Linked DNA regions of Homo sapiens: all the other regions are linked to region 5. The links come from fine-mapping of genetic effects on gene expression. A gene starts in region 5. Each other region holds a variant in brackets. All regions are shown on one strand. Distances are between the middles of the regions.

Region 1 (4,897 bases), 25 kb before region 5:
CCTTCTAGGCAAGCAAAATGAAGGTAAACCCATCAACATTAATGAAAGACTCCAAGAAAGATGAAACTGGGCATGAATTTATGGCTACTTTCCTAACTTCTGAAGTGGGTCTTTATCCTATCTCAAACAGGATAACATTTTACGCATATATTTTAAACTCTTCCATTTGAAACCAAAACATTAAACTGAGTTCACGTGATTTAGGAAAAAAGGAAGGTTGGGGAAGACATATTGCCTTAGGACAGGTTCAGAGTCCAAAGGAAAGGGAAGAGTTGGCGAGTACATGGTCTGTTCCAAGTACCATCAATTCAGGGGACAAAGTAGATTTCTCTTTATCCTGAATTTATCTGGTTTGGATGTTAGCAATATTAACTGGAGAAAGATCATTTTCTAAATTTCTTTTGAGGCTGCCAGGAACTCAGTTACATCCCCAAGGAAGCAAATAAAGGTGTTTTTGTTTCCCGTTGAGTGGTTTCATATTCTTAAGTGACTTAATTATAAAAATAATAGCTTCTTATTAGGAAAATGAAGACAGTTGCAATCCCTGAGATAACTGCTTAGCAACTTGGCACCCTTTCCAATCTTTTAATTCCTGCATCATTTTCCATGTAGCTTATGTCACTCTACATATGCAATGTAGCATCTCGCTCGTTGAGCTACAATGTGATCATGTTCCAAGTGTTATTAAAGACTTCATAAATTAAACTCTAAAGGTTACCTAATGATTCACTTCAGGGGTATACCGTAATTTAATAAAGCATTTTTTGTTGGACATTTAGAATGTTTCTAGGCTTCATTTATAAATAATACTTTAATAAACATTATTGGCCATTAAGCTTTTTCTGAAGTCAGCTATCCAGATTAGCTAGATGTAATGGTGCATGCCTGTGATCACAGCTACTCGGAAGGCTGAGGTGGGAGGATTGCTTAAGCCCAGGAGGTCAAGGCTGCAGTGGACTGTGATCACGCCACCCCGGTCTAGGGAACAGAGTGAGAACCTGTCTCAAAAAATAAATAAATAAATAAATAAATGATATAAAGGGTATGCTTGGAAGTAGGAATTCCAGGACAAAGGATATAGAAATTTCTAAGGTCTTAACACATATTGCTTTAATCCTCATTTCTAATTTATAGTGCTATCAGCAGTGTATAAAAGTGTCTCCCTTATAACACCTTCATAATTAATATTTTCTAATCTCAACTATATTGATAAGAAAATGACATCTCAAATATTTACTTTTTTATTCCTTGTGAGATTGAAAAACCTTTATATACTGTTTACTACCATTTGCATTTCCTTTTATTATGAAATGTCCACTTTCCTTTGCCCATTTATCTTCAGGGACCTATTATTTTTCTAAATGGATTATAGACACTCCATATATTAAGTATATTAACACTTTGCCATATTTTTCAAGTTATTTTCTCTTAACTTTGCAGTAACTAAATCTATACCTTTTTTCCGTGTTTCATTCGTTGCTTCTAAATTTAGTCTCATCAAGACATCTGACACGCATACATTTCCTTCTAAAACTTTTAAACATTCATAAGAACTGCTCCCTCCACTAATCAATTTCCAGCACTGTATATGGAAAAGTTATTTCTCCCACTGATAGTTGTTTTGACAACTTTAGGTAGTCATACTTCTAGGTTAAGATAATAGCCTCTTAAAAATACCTGATTGCCCTCCCTGTATCAAAACCCTTGTGGTGTAATCTTGAAGTTACTTCCACCGAAGACGGGTGGACTGTATTTCCCCATTCCAGCTTTGGGCTCAACCATGTGATTTGCTTTGATCAATGGCACCGTGAACAGAAGTGATGCTGTGCTGGTCCTTAGCTAGGCCTTAGAGATACTGTGTGTTTTCACTTGCCCCCTTGAGTCTCTGTGGTCACAAGACAGCTGCTTTCTCCTTTAGCTTGGACCCCAAAAGAAACACACATGGAACAGAGTTGTCCCGGCTGCCCTGCAGATGTATGGTTCAGTGTAAGCTCCCAACCTGGCTACTGCAGTGCAAAGCAGAGCTTCC[T/C]GACTGTGCTCACCTAGGTCAGCTGACCTCCCAAACAACTAGAAGATGTGTAAGAAATAAATTCTTACTGTTGACTGCTGTTGAGATTCTGGGACTGTTATACAGCAATAGCTGATTTTTTTTACACCCATCTCTACATTGAAATCTTCACGGTTTTGGCTGGTACAAATTCTGCCTTTTGGAGAAAAGGACAAATGGTAGAGTTTCTTCTGACTTCATTCCCATCTGTTGATTACCATTTTGAGCCAAAGGGCAAAGATGACTAGATTCTTTTTTTTTCAAGTTTAACTTCATCAGGTACTCTTTTTTTTTTGAGACGGAGTCTTGCTCTGTCGCCCAGGCTGGAGTGCAGTGGCACTATCTCTGCTCATGGCAAGCTCTGCCTCCCCAGTTCACGCCATTCTCCTGCCTTAGCCTCCCAAGTAGCTGGGACTACAGGTGCCCACCACCACACCCAGCTATTTTTTTTTGTATTTTTAGTAGAGATGGGGTTTCAACATGTTTGCCAGGATGGTCTTGATCTCCTGACCTTGTGATCCGCCCACCTCAGCCTCCCAAAGTGCTGGGATTACAGGCGTGAGCCACCACGCCCGGCCATCAGGTACTCTACTCTTATAGGCCTTATCAAATCACTAAGTGCTTCTCTTAGATTCTACTATTTTCTATGCCTTTTTGTGTATCTTACAAAAGACTGGGGCTTTATAACAATGTTTAATATCCTGATGCCATTTTAACCCAAAGACTCACTCCCAATACTTCCAACGTAAACCAAAGGCTTTTAGAGAGTGAGATTTAGGGATAAAAGCTCATTAAAATAAACTGAGTCAGGAAAATTGACCATTACTACTTGGCTCCTAACCTCACAAAACTTAGTCATCTCTTCAATGGGCTAGGATTACAAATGGTACACATATTTTGATTAAGAAGTATTCACTTTCAAAGTTTGTTAAGAGGTCAGGCCTAAGTTGCTAGTTCACAACTGCATATTCACATGTTCAGTTCTCTTCTTTGTAACACATTTTATTAAGATTTTTTTTTTTTTAAAGACAAGGTCTCGCTCTGTCACCCAACTGGTATGCATGGCCTAACCTTCTGGGCTCAGGTGATCCTCCTGCCTCAGCCTCCTAAGTAGCTGGGACCACAGGCACACACCACCACACATGGCTAATTTTTAAAAAGTTATTTGTAGAGATATGGTCTTCCTGTGTTGCCCAGGCTGGTATCAAACTCCTGGGCTCAAGCGATCCTCCTGCCTCAGCCTTCCAAAGTGCTGGGATTACAGGCATGAGCCACTGCACGTGGCCAACGAAGACATTTTAATATGCACACCTTTGGATGCTAAGGATGTGGGGATGGATTTAAAAAAACAAAAACAGCAACAAAAAACCTATCCTCAGAGTTGTTTAGTTTTTCCCCACCTAAAGGTGTCATAGACCATTAGGTGTCTATATTCAGGCTTACCAAGATTCTCACTTAATCGAAGAATAATTTCAAGGTCACTCAATTTAGGATATTAAATGCCTATTTATCTGCTCAGCTCTTGCATTCAGGGAGCTGAGAGTCTACTTACCAAGTCAACTCAAGTGACAACTTCCCTTCAAGGGCTACAGGCCCACTCAGGACACTAAATCATCTGGCAAACTGAAGAACAGGGAGCTTCGTAGGCTGGAAAGTAAAGGATTCCTAACAGAATAAGATTTAAGCTGGCCTTGAAGGACAGGTAAGATTTGGCAGGAACAGAGGAGAGGATGTCCCAAACAAAAGAAGAAACACAGGGAAAGAAAGGGATAGGCATTATGGAAACCCACGTGAAGAGGCAGAGATCGCTAGATATGCAACAGTTACTTGGGATCAAAAAAAGGAGTAAGCTTCCAGTGGATGAAAAAGCTCAAACATATACTTGCACTGACATATACTTGTGTTGACAAGCTCTCATGGCAGAACTTCATGTGTGTGTGTTTTCACCTAGACTTCAAGTCAGATTCAAATGCAGGCTGCTCCCACCCAAGAAGTAAAAACAAATAAAAAAAGATTAAAAGAAAAATCCACCCACTCTTCCCCCTAAAACATCTTTACTGCGAAATGTATATGAAGTTTAAGTTTTTCAGAAGATATCTTTGAAAGATTTTCTTCTTTAACTACATATACACATTTTAAAAAGATTCGTGTTCAAAGATTTTGCACAAAGCAGAACACTCAGGTATTCGTTTTAATCTCTCACCTTCTGTTGAAATCAACCTGGATGGAATGATCTATTACAAGATCAGCAGGGCAGACAGGGTTTATTTTCTCTGGATCTCCTCCTAACTTTTTCACAGCATCACGCATTGCAGCAAAGTCAACCACAGCGGGCACACCCCTAAGAGAAGAAAGAGAATAATGCAGAAAATAAGCCTTAAATGTGTGTAACTGGATTTTTCAGCTTTTGCCTCCATTGATAATATTGACAAGGCCCTACCTCATCAGAGGAGCTAACAATGGGTGAGACTTAGAAAAGTGAAAGTTTCTAAGCGTATTTCCTCAGGCAGAAATCACATAGGTAGTAAGTACCATGACTGGGTGGTATCTCTATGTACAATGTTATCACCGTATTAAATTTAATAACGGCTATGTTCTAAATACAGCAATGATGGGAAAGCTGGCACTTAACAACTCTGGAACTCTTACTGCTGTGAGTGCTTCCCATTCACATGGTGGCTTGACAAAGACCTGGAGAAGACTTTCAGATCACACCTTTTCAGTTTTGACCAGATTTCAAGGAATGGATATAATTCAGAAAAGTTGGCTGTGAATCAAATTCATGTTAAATGAATCTCTCTTTTTCGCTTAAAAGTATAACATTTTGGTGATCTTCCTCTAGAAAAATGA
Region 2 (4,897 bases), 68 kb before region 5:
ATTGTTTAAGAACTCCAATAGGATGTGTAAAACATCTACTAGAAATAGATTTAATAAGATAAAAGTTATTATTATTATTTTTTTTTCTGAGATGGAGTCTCACTCTGTTGCCCAGGTTGGAGTGTAGTGGTGTGATCTCGGCTCACTGCAACCTCTGCCTTCTAGGTTCAAGTGATTCTCCTGCCTCAGCCTCCCACATAGCTGGGTACAGGCACCCACCACCACACCCGGCTAAATTTTTTTATTTTTAGTAGAGTCGGGGTTTCACCATGTTGGCCAGGCTGGTCTTGAACTCCTGACCTCAAGTGATCCACTTGCCTCGGCCTCCCACAGTGTTGGGATTACAGGCGTGAGTCACCATGCCTGGCCAAGAAAAGTTCTTTTAAGTATGTAAATGATTCAATTTGGATGAAGGTGAATAGCCCTATTCAGCCAACTGAGGCAGGCAGACTGAAGTGAAAATAAATAAGGAGAACTTAGCATTTCCTTGTTTGACTTTTAATGGAATAATGTCATTGCCAGGCATGGACTCAAACAAAGTAGGCACTTGGTTAATATGTATTGAATGAAAGAAATGAGCAGGTAGGCTTTTAGGAAGTGGATCTTTTGACTGACTCCCAAATGCTGGTCATTGCATTTCTAGAACAAAGGCCACATTTTAGAAACAACTGGGGAGTCTTTTTCATGGACACATGCCCAGCCCCATTAGAGCATCCTGGCAGGGTGTCCAGCCGTGTATGTTTTGAAGCTCCTGTGGTTCAGACACAACCTGTTACACAACTACCACCTTGTTATCTCTGTGGTCCTGGCCTGTGCTGATGCTGTGATATTTTCACCCTGAAATGAAGAGTCATCCCAACATCAAGGTCAGTAAACCAATTCCTGTCCTTAAAATGGATTCATTATTATTTGAATTTCAAACAACAGACCAACCATAGCTCAATGTTTCTCAAGAGTATCCTGTGGAGCACAGTGCGTGAACGCCCAGAAGAAAGCAGTCTGTGGTCAGGTGGGTTTCTGTGCCATTTGCTGCCACCTTCCCTGCAAACAGTGATTTACAGCACACATTGTTCTTGTGTCTGTTCTGCAGTGATAAAACCCATTTAACTCAGTGGTTCCCAAATGTACTGACCGTGGAACTGTTTTACTCAGGGGACACTGTTAACATCCTGTAGAAGCACAGTAGCAGGTATCCAGCCTGCATACGATAAGACAACCAGAACCAAATTTGGCAGGTACATGTCTGGAACTCTGTTTCATTATGCCGTAAAATAAAACTACGAATTTCATTCAACAAATCTGTACTGAATAAGTAGGCTTCACTCTTGGGATGTCAACTTTTAAAACTTACTTAATATCAGCTATCGTTATATAATCTTTGTTCATAATGACGCTGTCTGGTTGAACACAAACTGGCTGGGTGTTAAATTCCACTTGTGTTTATGATATTTAATAATGTCCTAAGAAGGCAGCCAGTAGAACCTTGGCTACTGTTTTTCAAAAGTGGCTCTGCATTGCTCCTACATAACCCCGTACATTACTCCACAGTCCTGTTAGAGCCCTGAAAGGGAAACTGCTAAAAATAAGGTTCTTCATTTAGGTGACTAGGAACTCCCAATATTTTTGCCCTAGGGAATACTGGGAGACAAATCTCTACGATCACAAATTACTAATGGTTTCCCCAGAACTGCTGGTGGCCATATCCCCTGGCATGTGGAAGGGCCCAGAAGAGGCCACTCTACTGCAGAGGCCAACAGAAGGTATGATTGGTGGAGGGATGGGGGGGTGGTTGGAGGGGCAAATGGAAGGGAGCTTGAGTCACTAGATCCAATCAAGCCCATAGTCATGGCCACCACTGTCCTCAAGTTCTATGAGCCAGCTTTTTTTTTTTTTTCCTTAAGCTAATTTGAGCTGTGCTTCTACCACAGCTAAGATTCATGCCTAATATATCTTTTCCCTAGATTACTCCCTATGTACCATAAAAATCTGGTGTGTAAATACACATGAAGGGCATCCCTCATCCTTATTTGCTATATTAAAAATATTAACTAACTCTTAGCTTGCTGCGGATGCCAGGAATGCAGTAATGAATTTGGAAAACTATCCAAACAAACAGGGGAATCTTCATTCGCAAAGAATATGGGAGGGAGAACAGCAGATTTTTAATTTGGATAGTAAGACGAGCAGCCCTTAAAGAACCAGGTAAAAGAAGTTGGTTTATTTAGGCTTGTTAGTGGGCAAGGTTGAGACACTGGCCAAGATACTTTTTTTTTT[G/TTTG]GGGGGGGGGGGGGTGGTGATTGATTGATAGGGTCTCACTCTATTGCCCAGGCTGGAGTGCAGTGGAGCAATCATAGCCACGACCTCCCAGGCTCAAGTGATCCTCCCACCTCAGCCTCCTGAACAGCTGGGACCACAGGTGCACACCTGGCTGATTTATTTTATTTATTTATTTATTTATTTTTTTTTTTGTAGAGTGTTGCCCAGGCTGGTCTCAAACTTCTGGGCTCAAGCAACCCTCCAGCCTCGGCCTCCCAAAGTGTTGGGATCATAGGCATGAGACACCGTGCCTGGCGAAGATATTTTTACCGAAAAGGACAGAGGGTGTACTTGGAGGTAAGGGACCCAATTCCATTAGTCTAGCCACAATAATGTGTTTGTTTCCTCATAACCACAGTCTTGGTTGGGCTGCTGTAACTAAATATCAACTGGGTGGCTTATAAACAATAGAAATTTCTCACAGTTCTGGCTGGAAAGTCTAGGTTCAAGGCACTGGCAGATTCAGTATCTGGTGAGAACCCACTTTCTGGTTCACGGATGGTGACTTCTTGCTGTGTTCTCCCATGGCAGAAGAAATGAGGGGGTCTCTATCTTATCTTGAGTCTCTTTTAAAAGGCACTACCCTCATGATCTAATCACCTTCCAAAGGCCCCAGCTTCTATTACCATTACCTGGGGGGTTAAGGTTTCACCACCTGAATTTTGGGGAGGATACAAAAATACAGACCACAGGAGCCACTGAATGCGGGGAGCGAGACAGCTCCCCAGCTGCTCAGTAATGGAGAGCTGAGAGGGTGGAGGTCTGTTTTCTCAGCCATTCTTAGTGTTTTTATTCTAGGACTGATCTTAACTTGAGGATCACAGGTTTTTTTGTACAATGGAGTTCTGTTTGTTTGTAATTTTTTTTTTTTTTTGAGACGGAGCTTTGCTCTTGTAGCCCAGGCGGGCGTGCAATGGCACGATCTCGGCTCACTGCAGCCTCTGCATCCCGGGTTTAAGCAATTCTCCTGCCTCAGCCTCCTGTGTAGCTGGGATTACAGGCACACAATACCACACCTGGCTAATTTTTTGTATTTTTAGTAGAGACGGGGTTTCACCATGTTGGCCAGGCTGGTCTAGAACTCCTGACCTCAGGTGATCTACCCACCTCGGCCTCCCAAAGTGATGGAATTATAGGCATGAGCCACTGCGCCTGGCTGTTTGTTTGTAATTTATTTTTTAAATGAATATAAATAAGATCCCCAGGACCGCAAGTGCAGGGATGCTAAATAACCTGTCTTGATCCCTCATCTGGTGAGAAGTAGAAAGAGGATTAGATTCCAGATGTTCTGATGACCAGGCCATATCCCCTGAGTGCTAAGGTTGACATTAAAAATTCATTACAAAGATCCTGCCCTCCTGTCCTTGGACATCACAGCTCCTGCTTGTTCCTGGGCATTCAGACTCTGGGACTTATACCAGCATTCCCCATGCCCCTCCCCAGGTTCTTAGGCATTTGGACTTGAACCAAGTTGTTATACCACCAGCTTTCCTGGGTCTCCATAAGAGTGGGACCCTGATCCAATACAATTAGTGTTGCTGTAAGAAGAGACATGAGAGCCTATTTTCTCTCTCCCCCACCAGGCACATACCAAAGAAATGCCATGTGAGAACAAGCAAGAAGGTGGCCATCTGTAAACCAGGAAGAGTGTCCTCACCAGAAAATGAAGTGGCTTCAACTTTGATCTCAGAATTCCAGCCTCCATAACTGTGAGAAAATACATTTCTGTTCTTTCAGCCAGTCTATGGCATTACATTATAGCAACCCAAGCAAACTAAGGCATGCCCAGAAATGACTACAGGGGTAAAAATGAGCAGATAATTGGTTTTTAGTGTCCTGAAGTTTATCTGCTTTTCCTTATGTACTTATATCGTTGCCACTGCCACCAGGCTACTCTTCCTTCTTGTCTGCTCCCAAACAGGGAAGAGCGAGCATAATGGTTCCTAAACATTTCCGTTATACCCGTACAGTTCTGATAGAGTTGTAAAAATGGGAGAATATGAAGGTTATTCAGGCTTCCCAATGATATGGTGTGAGATTCACTCTGTACTAAATATCCCAAAACTCTAGCCACAAACACAGCAAAACTCAAAGTCAACAAGTTTTCACTGAAAATAGATTTCATTTCATTCAAATTAGAAATGTGTTCTCCCAAACCGCCTCCCAACAAAGGTCTCTGCTTGATAAATGAAAAGATAGTAAAAGAAAACTTCACATTTCTTTTTATGTGGATCTATCAAAAGGTACATAATCAAAACAACTTTAACACCCGACCTATCCATGAGGAGTCTGGATGATTCACTCTGAAGGAAAAGGGGAGAGAAGAGAGAATCACTGCTCTGATTTGAAGTGTGCAAAGTTCTTATCTATGTCACTTAACACTGGTATAATTAATACAGAAAGGAAAATGACCCTCAAGAGGAAGGTTTCATTGAGCAGAGCGTAAGAGGAACAATAAGAGGGTAGGAGACACCTCCTGAGAAGGTTTGCTTGTGTTCAGCTGAAGATTAATAGGAAACAGTGAAAAAGCAACGTCCTGTGATCAGTAACTTTAAAGACAAGCTTGGTTCTCTCTTTCTGGCAC
Region 3 (4,897 bases), 57 kb before region 5:
CATCAATGATTGATAGACTGGATTAAGAAAACGTGGCACATATACACCATGGAATACTATGCAGCCATAAAAAAGGATGAGTTCATGTCCTTTGCAGGGACATGGATGAAGCTGGAAACCATCATCCTCAGCAAACTAACACAAGAACAGAAAACCAAACACTGCATGTTCTCACCCATAAGTGGGAGTTGAACAATGAGAACCCATGAACACAGGGAGGGGAACATCACACACTGGGGCCTGTTGGCGGGTCAGGGGCTAGGGGAGGGATAGCATTAGGAGGAATACCTAATGTAGATGATGGGTTGATGGGTGCAGCAAACCACCACGGCACATGTATACCTGCACATTCTGCACATGTACCCCAGAACTTAAAGTATAATAAAAACACAACAATGAAATACAGCATACAAATAAACAAAAATGTTTGCATATATTTTGTAACCTTTGCCTTGCTACCTCTATAATTCTCCATTTACACCATGTTTTTAGTTAATGTCAGAGTGAAAAATATCACTACACTCATACTACATTCTATCAATGTATAAGAAATGACTTCCGTTATAAAGCGAAGGATGATAAACCTAAAAATCGATCAGCATATGCACATCTGGAAATACTCTGGAGTTCTATTTCTGAAATATTAGTATTAAATACCAAAGAATTGTTTAATTATCTGATGCTGTTGCTTTAAGTAAACTTTTTATTATTTTACTTCAAAGTCTAGAATATCGATAATGAGATGATTCATAGACAGTGATGACAGTAACCTTTTACCTCTGTTATATCTTGAAAAGTCACTTGGTTTTGTGGACTTTTATAGGCCCTCATTTCCAGTAATTGTGTGCTATATTTCAGTGAAATCAGATGTCTAATGTCACAGGAGAAAAAGATGCTTCAGCCTAATTTTGCCATACATCTTCTAGACTGAAGGTCACAATGAAGCGTTTTTTTTACATTAACTTTGTACTCTAAGGGAATTACATCTTGAATACATCTAGGATGACAGAAAATGGCTTAATAAATTTTCAGTTAGTGGTCCTTATTTTTGCCTCATAACACCGTGCTTTCTTCTGTTATATTGCTTTGTAATTGTCTATTTACTGGTCTGTGCCCTACCCCAAATTATAAGCTTCTTGAGCCGGTGATTGTTAAAAAAACAAAAATAAACAAAAGACTTTGTAAGTTAGAACTGTTCTCACACCTAAATTATTTGTAAGTACATATTAATATTTTACATAAAATGTTATCCTCTAGTGATAAATAACACAATAGCTAGTCTTCACTGATTGCTCATAATGTAGAGGCACTATGTAAGCACTTAAATAATTCCTCTCATTCCACCATCCACTAACCCGGGGATGTAGATGCCCTTATTGTCCCCCTTTACCCAGGGAGTCAGTGCTGGTATCTGGTAATTGGACCCATGAAGTCTGACAAATGATATAACATGTTTTAGCAAAGTTACATTGTATCTGGAATCCACATCACAAAACAACATAAAATTTTTCCCTTGATTTTTTTCTACTATTTTAGGTGTATCAGCAGGCACAGAAAGTTCAATCAAAAAAGCAACTTTCAGAACATACCACAGATAAAGTAAATGATTACCTCTTGTGTACTGCTTTTACACTTCCTGCTTCAAAGATGAAATTGTGTTGAATATAGTCTTGATATTAAGCTTAAAGTATGTTTTATTGGGAATCTATAATTGGCAATATACAGCAATAAAGGATGGTACTCCATTAACTAGAACTCCCCATTAGTTTATTATTAATAATTAATAACTGTCATATAATATTAAAATACCCTAAGAGGTCTCTTGGTATCTAGGGCACACTTTTAAGATGCCCAACACCAGGGTCACTTTAGGAGCTTGTTGAAAACATAGATACTTGCGTACTACCCCAGATCTGCTGCATCAGAATGTCTTGCAGGGAGCGTGGGGTGGGAGGGGGCTAGTGATTCTTACAATTTTGAGAACCGTGAACTATAGCGCAATGGTTCTCAACCACTGCTGCATACCAGAATCAGCAGGGGAGGCTTTTAAAATCCCAATGTCCAGGCCTTTCTCCTTACCAATTAAACCAGAATCTCTGGAGATGAGATCCAAACACAGGTATTAAAGTATTAAAAAAAAAAAATCCCATAAGTGTTTCCAAACTTGAGACGCACTGCTACAGAGAGAGGGCAGATTCTTTGGGGCGGTAGATCTTTTCTAGGGTTTTAGGGATAGATGGATGTATTCTAGGGAGGTAGAAAGCTTTCTAAACACACCCTATTCATGTCACTAGCTCTGTGTAAAGGCCATGCTGCTTTGCTTCAGAAGCTGTAAATCATAGCTGTCCACTGCTCTCTGTAAGTACAGTCCAGCACGGCTACGTGGCCCAGCCTGGACAGCTACAGAACAGAAGACTGTATGGCTTCCTGGGCAGCCAGAACTCAAGCGGTTCTATAGAAAAGTCTGGACTCTAGAGAACCCCTGGGGGCCAGTTCTCTTCTTATCCTCTATCAGATCTTAGAGTTCCCTACCTGAGTGCTGACTGCCTGGGTTGCATTTTGGCTACAGCTCCCAACCCCCTTCCTAAAATCCTTTTCTTCTGCAATTATCTGGTTCTTTTCAATAGTTTCCAGAAAAGACAGGCCTTTGACCTACTATCAACTAATCAGAGAACATTTCTATTTTCCTCAGAGCAAAATAACCAATTAAAATAATAGGTGTGATGTTCAAAGACATTATCAGAAGCCTAAATGTCTGGAGAACTGCCTGCCAGACAGCCACATTTTTTTACTGTACTTGTGGATATGAACTTAGTGTTTCCGAGGTGCATTAATTTGCGAGCCACAAATGATTTAAATTGACATCAGGTAAGCCATGTGTACCCCACCCTGAAGATTCAGGCTGGGTGGCATGATTCTTCTCTGCTTTTAGGGCAAGCAAATGCTCAAGAGGCAAAAGCTCTCTGCTCCCTGCATGGCCCCTTCTATGGGGACACCTCAAGAGGTAGAGCCCCGAGATGGCGGAAGGTTCTAAAGAGCTGCCTGGGTATGTGCAGAGTGAGTTTCACTCTCAT[C/T]GAGAGCCCATAAGCAGATATTCATAGGCAGTGAAGTGCAATTATAAAAAGTGATTCTCCCAATTTTCCAGGAGACTTAGAACCCATTCTTGCCAAAGTAACTCCTGAAAAAGTCCAGGCTCCTTTTCTCTTCTGTGAAACTGACAGATAATACAATGGCCCTGGCTTATTCCTGACATTCACCTGGAACAAGGGACCTGAATAAATTTGGGGTCCTCAGCCTCTGAGAATGTTATAAAAGCCATGACACCTCTCCCCATGAAAGACATACATGTATACTTCTGGATATGTTTTCAGAGACTTCACAGACCCTACCCCAAAACTGTTCTATAGACATGCCCCCAAGGTCCATTAATGAATGATAGATCCAGTTCAACTCTGCATTGCCCTTCACCAAATAAAATAAATCCAGAGGCACCAAGAAGCAGGCCAGGAATAAACACTACCTGCTTTTTTGAGCTTGCTCTTCCTTGACATCTTCTTGGAAAGTAAAGCAACAGGATTTGTGCCTGGGGACCCTCCCAGTTCAGAGGGGAGCTGCCTCCTAGGATGTCTACTTCATACTCACCAGCAGGAAAGGGCCCTTAGCTGCCCAGTCTCGGGAGCTGCCTGCACCGTACTCTTTGCCAGCCAGAACGATCAGGGGAAGGCCTGCCTGCTGGTACCGCTCAGCAGCATCAAACACATCAAGCTGAGGAAGAGAAAAGGAAGTTTTACAGATGCAGGAGAGGCAAAGAATGGACACAGGTCCCCTGAGCCCTGGTGAGGGCGGGGCTGGATGGGTTTGCAGATGGCCAAATCCGTCCAATCATCTTGTCTACAAATTCCCAATTATCTTGATCTTTTTACTTCTACCAAATTAAATTTTGTATTCTTTTTTTTTTTTTTGAGATAGAGTTTCACTCTATTGTCTAGGCTGGAGTGCAGTGGCACGATCTCAGCTCACTGCAACCTCCACCTCCCGGGTTTCAATTGATTCTCCTGCTCCAGTCTCCCAAGTAGCTGGGATTACAGGCGCACACCACCATACCCAGCTAATTTTTGTATTTTTAGTAGAGATGGGGTTTCACCATGTTGGCCAAACTGGTATTGAACTCCTGACCTCAAGTGATCCTCCCACCTCGGCCTCCCAAAGTGCTGGGATTACAGGCGTAAGCCACTGCATCCGGCCTTAAATTTTGTATTCTTAAAAACCATTTTATATTCTTTTGACAGAAATGCCTAATTGTTGTTGGTTTTATAAAAACATTAGAATCCTAAGGCATCAGGGGAGAAAAGGAAACTAGATCAGATTTTTTCTTTTCCATTGACTAAATTATTTTAAAACTCAAAAAACAGAATGTGACCTAAACATTTTGGCTCAATATCAGAAACTCGGTGATGTCAGTTGTAAAATTAGCAAAACACAAAGAAGGTAACATGTTCTGAAATTATATAAAGTGCAAACTTTTATCAGTCCCCTTTCTTCATGGAGGTCAAGGGAAGAGATGCTAGAAATGCAAATGGAAGCCCAATAAAAGGTAGAAAAAGATTAATATTTTAGTACATGAGAAACATCTTATACAAACAGATTTGTTTCTCACAGGGAATCTGAATATCTCACTGAACTGAGACTTTACAAAGACATGATATCATCTCTGGTGGTTGAGCAGTACCATTATTTTTCCAGGCTATGTAAGTCAGAAGATAAAATTCCTCAAAAGAGAGACAGGAGCTAAAGAAAACTCTCAAACAGACTTTCACAAATTTGTATTTTGGTGTACTGATGGAACCTGTGGTTAATTTCGCATGCATTACCTAAACCCGGATAGGATTCTGTATGT
Region 4 (4,897 bases), 50 kb before region 5:
TGTAGTTTTTTGTTTTGTTTTGAAATAATTTCCTCTCTTGCATTTTTTCTGTTCTCTTTTTAACACTTCTATTTAGGCAGGTTGTTAGGGCCTCCTGAGTTCAGTTCTTACATTTTTTTCTCTTATCTTTCTGTTACATATTCTAGGAAATGTTCTCAACTAATCACCTTCTCCTTTGAATTTTCTTTTTAAATTTAAAACATTCTTTCTTGTCTTCTGATTGTTATTTCATAGCAACAGAAAATGAACTCTTCTCTAAGTATATAATTTTTTTCTTTTACTTTTTGCACTCCCCATCACCCTGTTCAAGTCTTGACTCAAATGTCTGTTCATCCTTGATTCTGTCTCATTTAAGATGAGGTTCTAGACATCTGACTAGAAGTTCTATGTCATGCAGGGCTTGTAAATGCGTGTGGTACACTGTGATGTTTATTAGGGGTCCCCCAATGTCTATAACTACAAGTCTTTCCCCTTGGTCTCTAAGGTATTCCATCATTCGACATGTATCTTTTTACATTTAATATTCTGTAACCTCTGCTATCCATTGAACAGGCGTCTGCTGGGCTAGGTACTGGTTATTTCTAAAGAACGAGTTTGTGTTACAAAAATATAATCAGTTACGAGTGAGGCAGTATGTGTGGTGGTAAAGGGCACTGACTTCAGAGCCAGACTTTCTGGGTTTTAATTTCAGCTTTTCCACTGTGTGACCTAAAGGAGTAATATGACCTCTTTATGCTTCACTTCTCAATTTAAAGCACAGATAATCATGGTACCTACCTCAAGGGGTTGTTATGAGCATTACATAAATCAATATATGCCAAGAGCTTAGGAGAACACCTGGAATGTAGTTAAGTGCCATAGACATATTAGCGATTATTATTTTAAAATAAGTCGGCAGGGTTATTTCTCAAGTAAGTTAAACAGTTTACAGGCAATTTCACAGCACTCACTGGGAAGGGAAGTGACACTAAGGACCTATGACATGTACCAGACTCTATGCTAGGTTTTATATTTCATTCCATTTCATTTTAAGCCTCAGAGCGTTCTTCCAAGGTAAGTAGTATTTTTACTTCACAGGTGAGAAAAGCAAGGCTCAGAGATGGAAATAACTTTAAGGCTCCACAGCTAGTATAACGTGGAGCTGGGAACAAACAGTCCCTGCTGCAACATACTGACCACAGTGCTCCCATTAGAACCAAAACATGCCTCCAAGCACCTCTCTACTCCTTCTTTTCATGTGGATTAGATGAATTAAATTACATGCCAATAAAGTCATACAATAGCACTTCTTGATAAATATCCTTTAATTTAACCTGGTATTTCCCCTTCGAATACTTTAAATGAAATGTCACTCAAAGCTCAATTCCTAAGAAAAGAGACTCAGTGAAACCACGGTCTAGAATCTCTAAGCAAGAAGAAAAGGTTTGAATTTGTCAATGATACATTCTATGCATATGGACACCTGGCAAGGAGGACTGTAGTTAGGGTAGGATGGAGCTGTGAAGAAAAACTAAAACCAAAAGGCGAGTAACTGTAAATATCCAACCTCCACCAAGGCTGACAAATGCTAGTGTCTGCAGGAAGCAGAAGACAATACTCACGATTTCCCCAGAAGGCAGATGGATAGTCTGTGGTGCCTGCTTGTTCAAAAATCTGTTTAACAAGCGAATGTTGGCAAATGTTCCCCGTGCCATGACGGCGTCATTACCTCGGCGGGAGCCATAGGAGTTGAATTCTCGTGGAGTTAGGCTAAGAAGGCAAGCAAGAAAGGAGCTGGCTTAGTGAAGCAAGCAAAGATTAACCTTAGCTTACACCAAGAAAAGAAAAAAACAAAACAAAACAAAACATAGACCTGGCTATTTCTCTAAGTCTCCTAAGCATTGTTCTCC[A/C]TGGCAGAAAAGCTGTCCCCAAAGCTTCAACGGAGAAGAGAGAGAGGTGAGAAGGGGTGGTGAGAGGCATAAGTCAGTATTCTCCTGGGTTAATTGTCTTTCAAATCTGGTTAGAAAAATAAGAAGGAAGTCTAAAAAAGAATGTTTTATTTGTTAGTAGGGTAGCCTATAAAGCTTCATATAAGATAAAGAGCTAAATTAAAAATAAGTGAGAAAATGGAAGCAAAGGGAAGAATTAGGGTAGGCAAATCAGATGGAGCCACAAACAGGGGGAAACACAAAATACGTTCCACAAAGTAACCAGAAATAGTTTCAAATTTGTCCCTGAATTATCAGGAACTCAATGCAAAGGAAAGACACACAGCTGGCAACATAACTTACAACTTTCATGAGAGAAAAATCGAGGCAGTGCTAAAGAGGCAGAACAGCTATTTCTGGTCCCCAAACCAGAGGAAATCTTGTCTGTGGGGCCTCAGTGAAAGGAAACTTTGCAGTGTCAGGAAACATACCTTACAATTAACACCGTGACCAGTTCACTGAGCTGTTCCTTAAAATACTAGGGGGTGGGTGTGTTAATATTATTTAATCAATGGTTAGATAGAATTTAAGGACTGAGAGAGTTTAATGGGTTACAGGAGCAGGTGAGTATGTCTTGGAATCCCTGAAACTATCCAAAATGTTGTGGGTATGTGCATTTTTCTGGGAAGGCATTAGATTTGCTTTCATTCAATTCTCTGACGTGTTCATGCCTCAAAAGGGCTCAACAATCAATAGAAAAAAGGCATTTGGATTCTGTTCCTCAAATTCGCTCTGGGGAATCACTGAAAGAACTGATTCAGCAGATGGGGATAGAAACCAGGAATTTTTATGTCCTCACGTGATTCTCGTGGAAACTCAGATTGGGGAACCACTGACCTCGATTAATATATGAGACAGTAGTTGATAATACTGGCATACCTATGAATATCAGCACACTACTGAAGAACTGATAAACAGATGAGTAAGCTGCAAATCCTCCAAGCAGTGCTCTGTAAACGTTAGGTTTCTCAACCAGGACCTGGCAATGCGTGTCAGGTTCTGCCTCTGCCCCAGGTTAAGAGCAGAGCCTTGTACTTTAAAGATCAGCCAAGCCGGGGGCAGGGATGACAGTTGGGCCTAATATATACACTTGCTCAAATGAAGGTCCCTCTCCCCTTCCCCTTGTTAGGATTCACATGTTGATCGTTTCTCCCATGGAAGCTGTTAAGCAGCAAACAGAAAATGCAATTGGTTTTTACCCCAGGGTTAAGCCTCAGTGCACAACCAAAGAGTCTCATTCCAAAGGGCCAGGTGAAAAGAGAAATGCTGGCCTCATTAACTCCATTCCTCCATTTTTGCCTTTAGTCCTTCCTGCCTCATTCATACTTACCCTCTGTTAGTTAAGTAGCGAGCAGCAGGACTGTTTCTTGCAATATTTCCAGCTGGGGAGATGTGGTCAGTTGTTACCGAATCTCCCAAATTTAGCAGCACATAGGCATCCACTATAGATTTAGGGGGCTGAAGATCCAAAGTCTAGCAAAGAATACAAAAAGTCAGCATTGGCCCAGGTTTTCCCAAACAAGTTACCAGATCAGTCTCTACGATGGTGGCCCATGGACCTGAATCAGAGGACAGTTCCACACCAATGCACAGAAAATTCTAGTGTTCTAGTTTTTATCAAAGAGGCCAAGAAAAGTAAGGTGAATTTACTCAAAACATTCATATCTTACTCTTGAAGAAAAGGTAAAATACTGGCAATATCCCCTCAAAAGCAACAGTAACGCAGCTGCAAATGACATTCTCTCTCTTCACATCCCTAGAACTCCTCAGATGCTAAGGACAACTGGAATCCTCACTTCTACTGCATCCCTTCCCACAGTGACCCACCCAGGAGAGCACCAACTTCTAGATCATCAGTTTCAGGGACAATGTCCCTGGTTTTTATGGGTATAAGGTTCACTATGGTGGGCTCTGGGGATGGTCTCCTGGGACAGTCCCTCAGACTCTACTAGGTTTAAGTCCAGGTGATTACTAGGGTGGCTGTGTACATCCACGCAGAACCCCTGCATAGAGAAACTATAGACCCACGGCAGCCAAATATCCCAGCCTCCCAAAACTTTCCCCAGCAGTATCTGCTTGGGTTTGCAAAGGGTTTAATAAAATGGGTAGTCAAAGCAAGAGCATGGGGTAATAAAGTAGATATTATTAGGAAAGAAACCCTTCAAAGAATTCATTTTGTTAAAAAATAAAAAGCCATACCAGGTTTTCAAAGAATGGTGGTGATTTGATATACGTAGATTTGGAATTCCAGAAAAACAGCTTATCTGATGGGGTTGCTAAGGCATTCCAGCTTTCATTCACAGTCTTAAAAAAGAAAAGAAAGGCAGATCTAATCACATCCCATTCCAGAGAAAATTTAATATGCAAACACAAAACATACATTCAAGCTAAAAGGTACACTAAGAACCATTTTTATTCTCAATAGCCACATACAAGAGTTCCTTTATACTAATAGTGGGTCATGCTAAGTAACTTAAAAATCCAGAGACACTGTGGGCTGGGCATGGTAGCTCACATCTATTAATCCCATTACTTAGGGAGGCTGAGGTGGGAGGATGGCTTGAGCCCAGCAGCTCAAGACCAGCCTGGGCAAGATGGCAAAACCATGTCTCTACAAAAATAAAAAAAAAATTGTCTGGGTGTGGTGGCATGTGCCTGTAGTCCGAGCTACTCGAGAGGCTGAGATGGGAGGATTGCTTGAGCTCAGGAATTTGAGGTGGCAGTGAGCTATGATGACACTACTGCACTCCAGCCTGGGTGACAAAGCAAGACCTGGTCTCTGAAAAACAAACAACAACATACATATGCACCGTGATAGGCAGCTTCTAGGATGGCAGGAGGGATCCTGCCTCCTGGGATTCACATCCTTAGTTGACCCCCTCCTGTTGAGTGTGGGCTGAAGCTAGTGACTATCTCCTAGATTAGATTAT
Region 5 (4,897 bases):
TCTACTAAAAAAACAAACCAAAAGCACCTTGGCTCAGACAATAGCAGTGTCAGCTGGCAAAGGTTTAACAACTTGAACTCCAAGAGGAAAAAAAAGCTCTGATGTAGCATTTGCCAATTTCCATGGTGTTATTATTCCCACCATGGCTTATTTCAATCTAAAAAATGTGTTGCCACTGAACACGGAGTTAGGAAGAGATATGCACAAATGCTAGTATAAACCAGCTCTGAAACCACTGGCTCCTTGGGACACTTACTATCAATGGCCTAACTCCTCATTTTAAAGTCAAAGACACTGAGACCCAGAGAAAGTGTCTTAACCCGAGGCTGGCCCAGTGACTGGCACCAGGTTGGAGGTAATTTCCCTGTGAATCTGGCTGCCTCACAGGAAATTACTTCCTATGTAGAAGGAAGAGTGGGGGAAAGAAGGCAAAGGAAGTTCTTTGCCAGGCACGTGGTGATACACGTTGGTTTTTATCATCATCTTCACAGTGTGGGACTGGTTTCTTCAGCACATGCCTTTGAAGCACACTTTAGGTAGGGGGTACTGCTCTTCACACAGGACCAGCTTTCATGTACACACTCTGACTATATAATAGACTATCTCAATTAACCAGCAGTTATCAAAGCTATCAGACCATAATTGCCAGAAAGACAGGGACTGCATCTTTTGTGCTCACTACTTTCCTGGCATCCCGCACATAACTGGACACATGAGAAATAGGTGGCCAATAAAAATCTACTGAAAGAATGAAGGAATGAGACCCCACCATCAAAGTGGAATTTTTTAATACAAAGAACACAGCAGGTGCTCAGAGTTTAGATCCCATTTCCTTCTCCTGTGGACTTCTCCTCCTCCTCACCTGTGGACTGTGCAACACACACAACACGCTCATGTGCATGCAACATTTCTCAAGTATCGGCTGTAGCATTTAAACTGATCCATCAGAGCACAAGAGGCTCTATGGATGAAGGAACAAAAGGGAGGATGGAGTTAGAAAATTTCTTCCTCCCAAATATATACACATAACATCTGTCTTGAACTTGTTCTGACAAGGCACGAAGCTAAGGAAAGAGTCCCGTGAAGGACCTCACCTACCACACTCCAGGATGGTGGAAACTGCTTTTTGACAGGGGCTGAGGAAGCACCACTCAGAGTGACACCCTCTGAAAGTGGAAAGTGAAAGAACGTCAAGACTGGAAATCATTATTCCAATAAACTCAAGGCTAATAACCATGCAACTGCAAACAGAAATGAACACGTGCAAGGGAAGGCAAAAGCATGCCTCCTTGTTCTTTTGGAAATAACTTCCTGACTACTTGGTAACTCTCACAGGAACCCCTACACACTTGGCATGGTCTCCCCACTGGCACTTTTGTGAGCCTACAGGTCCTGTTTGCCACATCACTGTTGTAATCCTGATGCACAGACAGGTCAGCTCTGCAAGCACAGAGACAACCAAAGGCATGTGCGAAGCCTTGCTGACTTTTCAGGAGGCTGGCAAGGTTCATCACAGCCTCACGTGGGGACCTAGTACATGGTTTCCAAAGTGAGATCAAACTTGGTTCCAGATACCAGAGGTTAATACTGTCCATGGCATGAGGTGGTGTGTGTTCCCAATCAGAGGAAGGATCACAAACAAGAAGCAGGCCCAATGAATGAAGCCTCTGAAGCATTTCCTACACCAGCATCCTCAAAGTGTGGTGCAGAGAACTCCTAGGGATCTCCAAAGTCAAAACCATTTTCCTAGTAATAAAATGTTACTTGCTTTTTTTCATTCACACATTTTCAGGAGTATACAGTGGAGGTCTCAAGAGGCTACATGATATGTGATATTGCAACAGACTGCAGAAGCAGCTATCAGAATCCAGCTGTCTTCAATTACGCTTGACATCAAAGAGATTTGCAAAAATGTAAAACAATGCCACTCTTCTCAATCATTTTCTGTTTTGGGAAATATAGTTCTTTTTCATAAAAATAGGCAATGTTAAGATATAATTAGTTCACTATTCTTTTTAAATGAATTATTATAGTACAAATTTCTCAGTCTTACTTACATATTATAAATATGGATAGATATAACACACATAAAAGCTCCTTAAGATACTAATTTTTAAGAGTGTAAAGGAGTACTGAGTACCAGAAAAGTTTGGGGACTTCTGTCCTAGAGGTTGTCCCCCAGGGAAGAGAGTTACATGTGTTGCAAGAAGGAAGATGCCATTATGATGTGCTAGCTGAATCTAGAAAAAAATGACTTGGTCATAACTGCAGCCCAAGCTCCTTTCTAGATCTCTGAATCTATCATGGTGGGCTCTGTGTTCAAGCCTCCCACGAAGGGTCTCTTCCCCCTCATCCCATTTTCCCTTTACCCCTTGGAGTGGATTCCCGGATCTGCCCGCACAACTTTAGCAAGGGTTTCCCTATCCAGCCAGCCGGGCCTGGGCGAGGACTCCCAGTGCGGGCCTCACACCCTCGGGGTTAGGACTCCCAGGACTGGCCGCACACCCTAGGCAAGGACTTTCAGGACAGCACGCACAGCCAAGGCTAAGAAGGGTCTAGGAAAGCCACTTCCAATCCCTGGTTTCTCTCCCCGGCATGACATAGACTGGGGACAGGGTGGAGACGTCAGTCGCCAGAAACACGTCCCCGATTCTCCTCTCAGCCTCCCCAAGCTCGCCTCCGTGTCCCCCGTGCCGCCACTGCCTCGGGCACCTCGGTAAAGGCCCGCACCGACTCTCGAGGGATACAGGGTGGACGGCGCTCCCGCCTGGGGACGTGGGTCGGGCCGCGTCGGTACTCACCTCCGACTGCACGGCGGGGCTCCCGCGACCGGCGAACCTGACCCAAGCAGCGGGACGCGTTCCCGTGCGCTGCGCGGTTCCAGCTGCCGCCTCCACGCTCCGCCCCCTCTCGCCCCCGGGGCCGCCGCGCGATGGGCGGAGCAGGGGCGGGAAGGGCGGAGCAGGGGCGGGACGGACGGGCAGCTAGCCGAAGAAGGGGCGGAGCCTGCGGGCGCCCCCGCGGGCCTGGAGGACTTCGCCCCGGGCTGGAGGCTAGGGTTGCGAAGGGCTCCTCCGCTGGAAGTGGGAGGGCTGATCCCTCGGCCCGGGTCCGCTTCTGCCAGCATGGGACCTGGGACGAGGGTGTCTGTTGCTCACTTTGGAGCTTAGCATGTGACTCCCCAGCCGGCGTTAGGAAGTGACCAAAGGGTGGGGAAGAAATGGAATTATTTTTAAAAAATGATTTGGCCATAACTGGAGAGGCTTCATGTACGTGTGGTCACTTGGCCCGCCTCCCTTCTCACTTTGTCCGTCCCCACCCTACCCACCCTCTCCACCCTCGCCTTAATTCTTTGCGCAAAGCCTGCCAAGTGGACATCGGAGTCACGCTGTCAGAATAGGACTTCAGCATTTCCGTGGCAAAAGTTCTATATGTAGATTTCCTTGGACATGTAACAACACTTTCTAATGCACGATGTTCACCGGTCTGAAGTCGGAGAAATGGCTGGGAGATGGCAGCAAGTGGGCTTTCACAAGATCTGCTTTTCATGTTGGTAGGAGTTGTGCCCTCTTGGGTGAATGGCGTTCAAAGAAGTGATTAGATCTTTCTAGATGAAAGGTGGTGAGGTTTTCCTGCCCAAATTATTTGGAAAGTTACTGTAGTTTTCTGAATAAGCAGCTTATAGGATGAGTAAACAATAGCCAGTACTAATAGCCCCCCTGCTACTTTATACTGCCCTCCTATTCTGCACAAAGCCCTGTGATCGACTCTTTCCACGTTATTCAGTTCAGCTCTTCCAACCACCTTACAAGTAAAGAATATTACCCGTCTTTGCAGGTGTGCAATGCGCAACAGCTGAGACTCAGTCCTTAGGTTGGTTTGACACCAAAGCCTACACCTTCCCTGTCATACTGCACTATAGGGTACAACTATCGTCTAGTTATATTTAACTTTGAAATATAAATACTTATATTTATTTTGAAAGGGGAAGTAACTGTATTTCCAATATGAGAGGAGACTGTTTTCCCACCCACTTCCTAAATCCTTTCCATTCACATTAGTAATTAAATTTTCTTTGAATGTCCACCATATGGCAGAGGTGCACCACAATCCCTGAAAAATCATGCTCCAGTCCCCTTGGGAGGTAGGGAGAGTAGGGGCAAGGTGAGAGTGAGTAGAAGGCTGGGGAAGTCCGATGAGGACACATCCAGCTAAATTGCGATTCTTAATGAGGCAGCCATTCGGAAAGCAAAGTATCTAATGTTCAATGATAACATCCGTGTAACTGAGAATCCTTCGCAGAAAACAATCAAATCAGAGCTATGAAGGGAATTGAGATTTATTAGTAAGCACGCTGGTCAAAACCGTGAAGGAAATAGTTCCACATCCCCCCAGTCTGTTGCTCTTGGACGTTGTCACCAGTGACGTGCAGATCGTGAATCCCAGGGCCTGTCCTCTGTTCCTGTCCTTACTCACTACTCTGTGGTATTTGACACTGGCGATTCGTTTTCCTAGAAATGTTAACCTCCTTTTGGCTTTTCAGCCCTCCGCTCTTAGGAGTCACCTCTTCCCTCTTTTGTCCCTCTTTTTTAAGGTCTTTCCCTACACTCTCTCCTCTTGCTTTATATGTTTCTCCATTTGCTGAGTTTTTCTTCATCTATTTTCTCAGTATGCAGACTGCCTGCCACTTCTAGCTGAAGCCTGCTATGTCTCTGTCATTGGTCTTAGTTAACTTTCTGACCTTCACACTCTTGATTTGCAGCCATATGTGGCAACCCCACCTGGATATTCCAAAGGTGTCTGTATTAGACCGTTCTCACGCTGCTGTAAAGAACCCTGAGACTGGGTAATTCATAGGGAAGGAGGTTTAATTGGCTCACAGTTCTGCATGCTGGGG

Evidence for each region.
Region 1: its variant is fine-mapped to the expression of ACO1 in unexposed skin (GTEx, PIP 0.92).
Region 2: its variant is fine-mapped to the expression of ACO1 in whole blood (INTERVAL, PIP above 0.99).
Region 3: its variant is fine-mapped to the expression of ACO1 in skeletal muscle (GTEx, PIP above 0.99).
Region 4: its variant is fine-mapped to the expression of ACO1 in cerebellum (GTEx, PIP above 0.99). The same link has a PIP of 0.9 or more in cerebellar hemisphere.

What each region holds. Positions count from the first base shown.
Region 1 is chr9:32,408,005-32,412,901 of GRCh38, reverse strand. It overlaps ACO1 (aconitase 1), which reads right to left. Exons shown (of 21, transcript NM_002197.3): 4 at 4,251-4,388. Among named protein-coding and RNA genes, the nearest start is that of ACO1, 26 kb to the right of the region's middle. The variant T/C (reference allele first, on the strand shown) is at 2,030.
Region 2 is chr9:32,450,355-32,455,251 of GRCh38, reverse strand. It overlaps ACO1 (aconitase 1), which reads right to left. Exons shown (of 21, transcript NM_002197.3): 21 at 483-4,897. Among named protein-coding and RNA genes, the nearest start is that of ACO1, 68 kb to the right of the region's middle. The variant G/TTTG (reference allele first, on the strand shown) is at 2,275.
Region 3 is chr9:32,439,333-32,444,229 of GRCh38, reverse strand. ACO1 (aconitase 1) reads right to left here. Exons shown (of 21, transcript NM_002197.3): 19 at 3,643-3,765. Among named protein-coding and RNA genes, the nearest start is that of ACO1, 57 kb to the right of the region's middle. The variant C/T (reference allele first, on the strand shown) is at 3,075.
Region 4 is chr9:32,433,102-32,437,998 of GRCh38, reverse strand. ACO1 (aconitase 1) reads right to left here. Exons shown (of 21, transcript NM_002197.3): 16 at 4,167-4,271; 17 at 3,298-3,440; 18 at 1,602-1,749. Among named protein-coding and RNA genes, the nearest start is that of ACO1, 51 kb to the right of the region's middle. The variant A/C (reference allele first, on the strand shown) is at 1,890.
Region 5 is chr9:32,382,640-32,387,536 of GRCh38, reverse strand. It overlaps ACO1 (aconitase 1), which reads right to left and starts at 2,894. Exons shown (of 21, transcript NM_002197.3): 1 at 2,802-2,894. RefSeq lists a silencer at 2,714-3,093.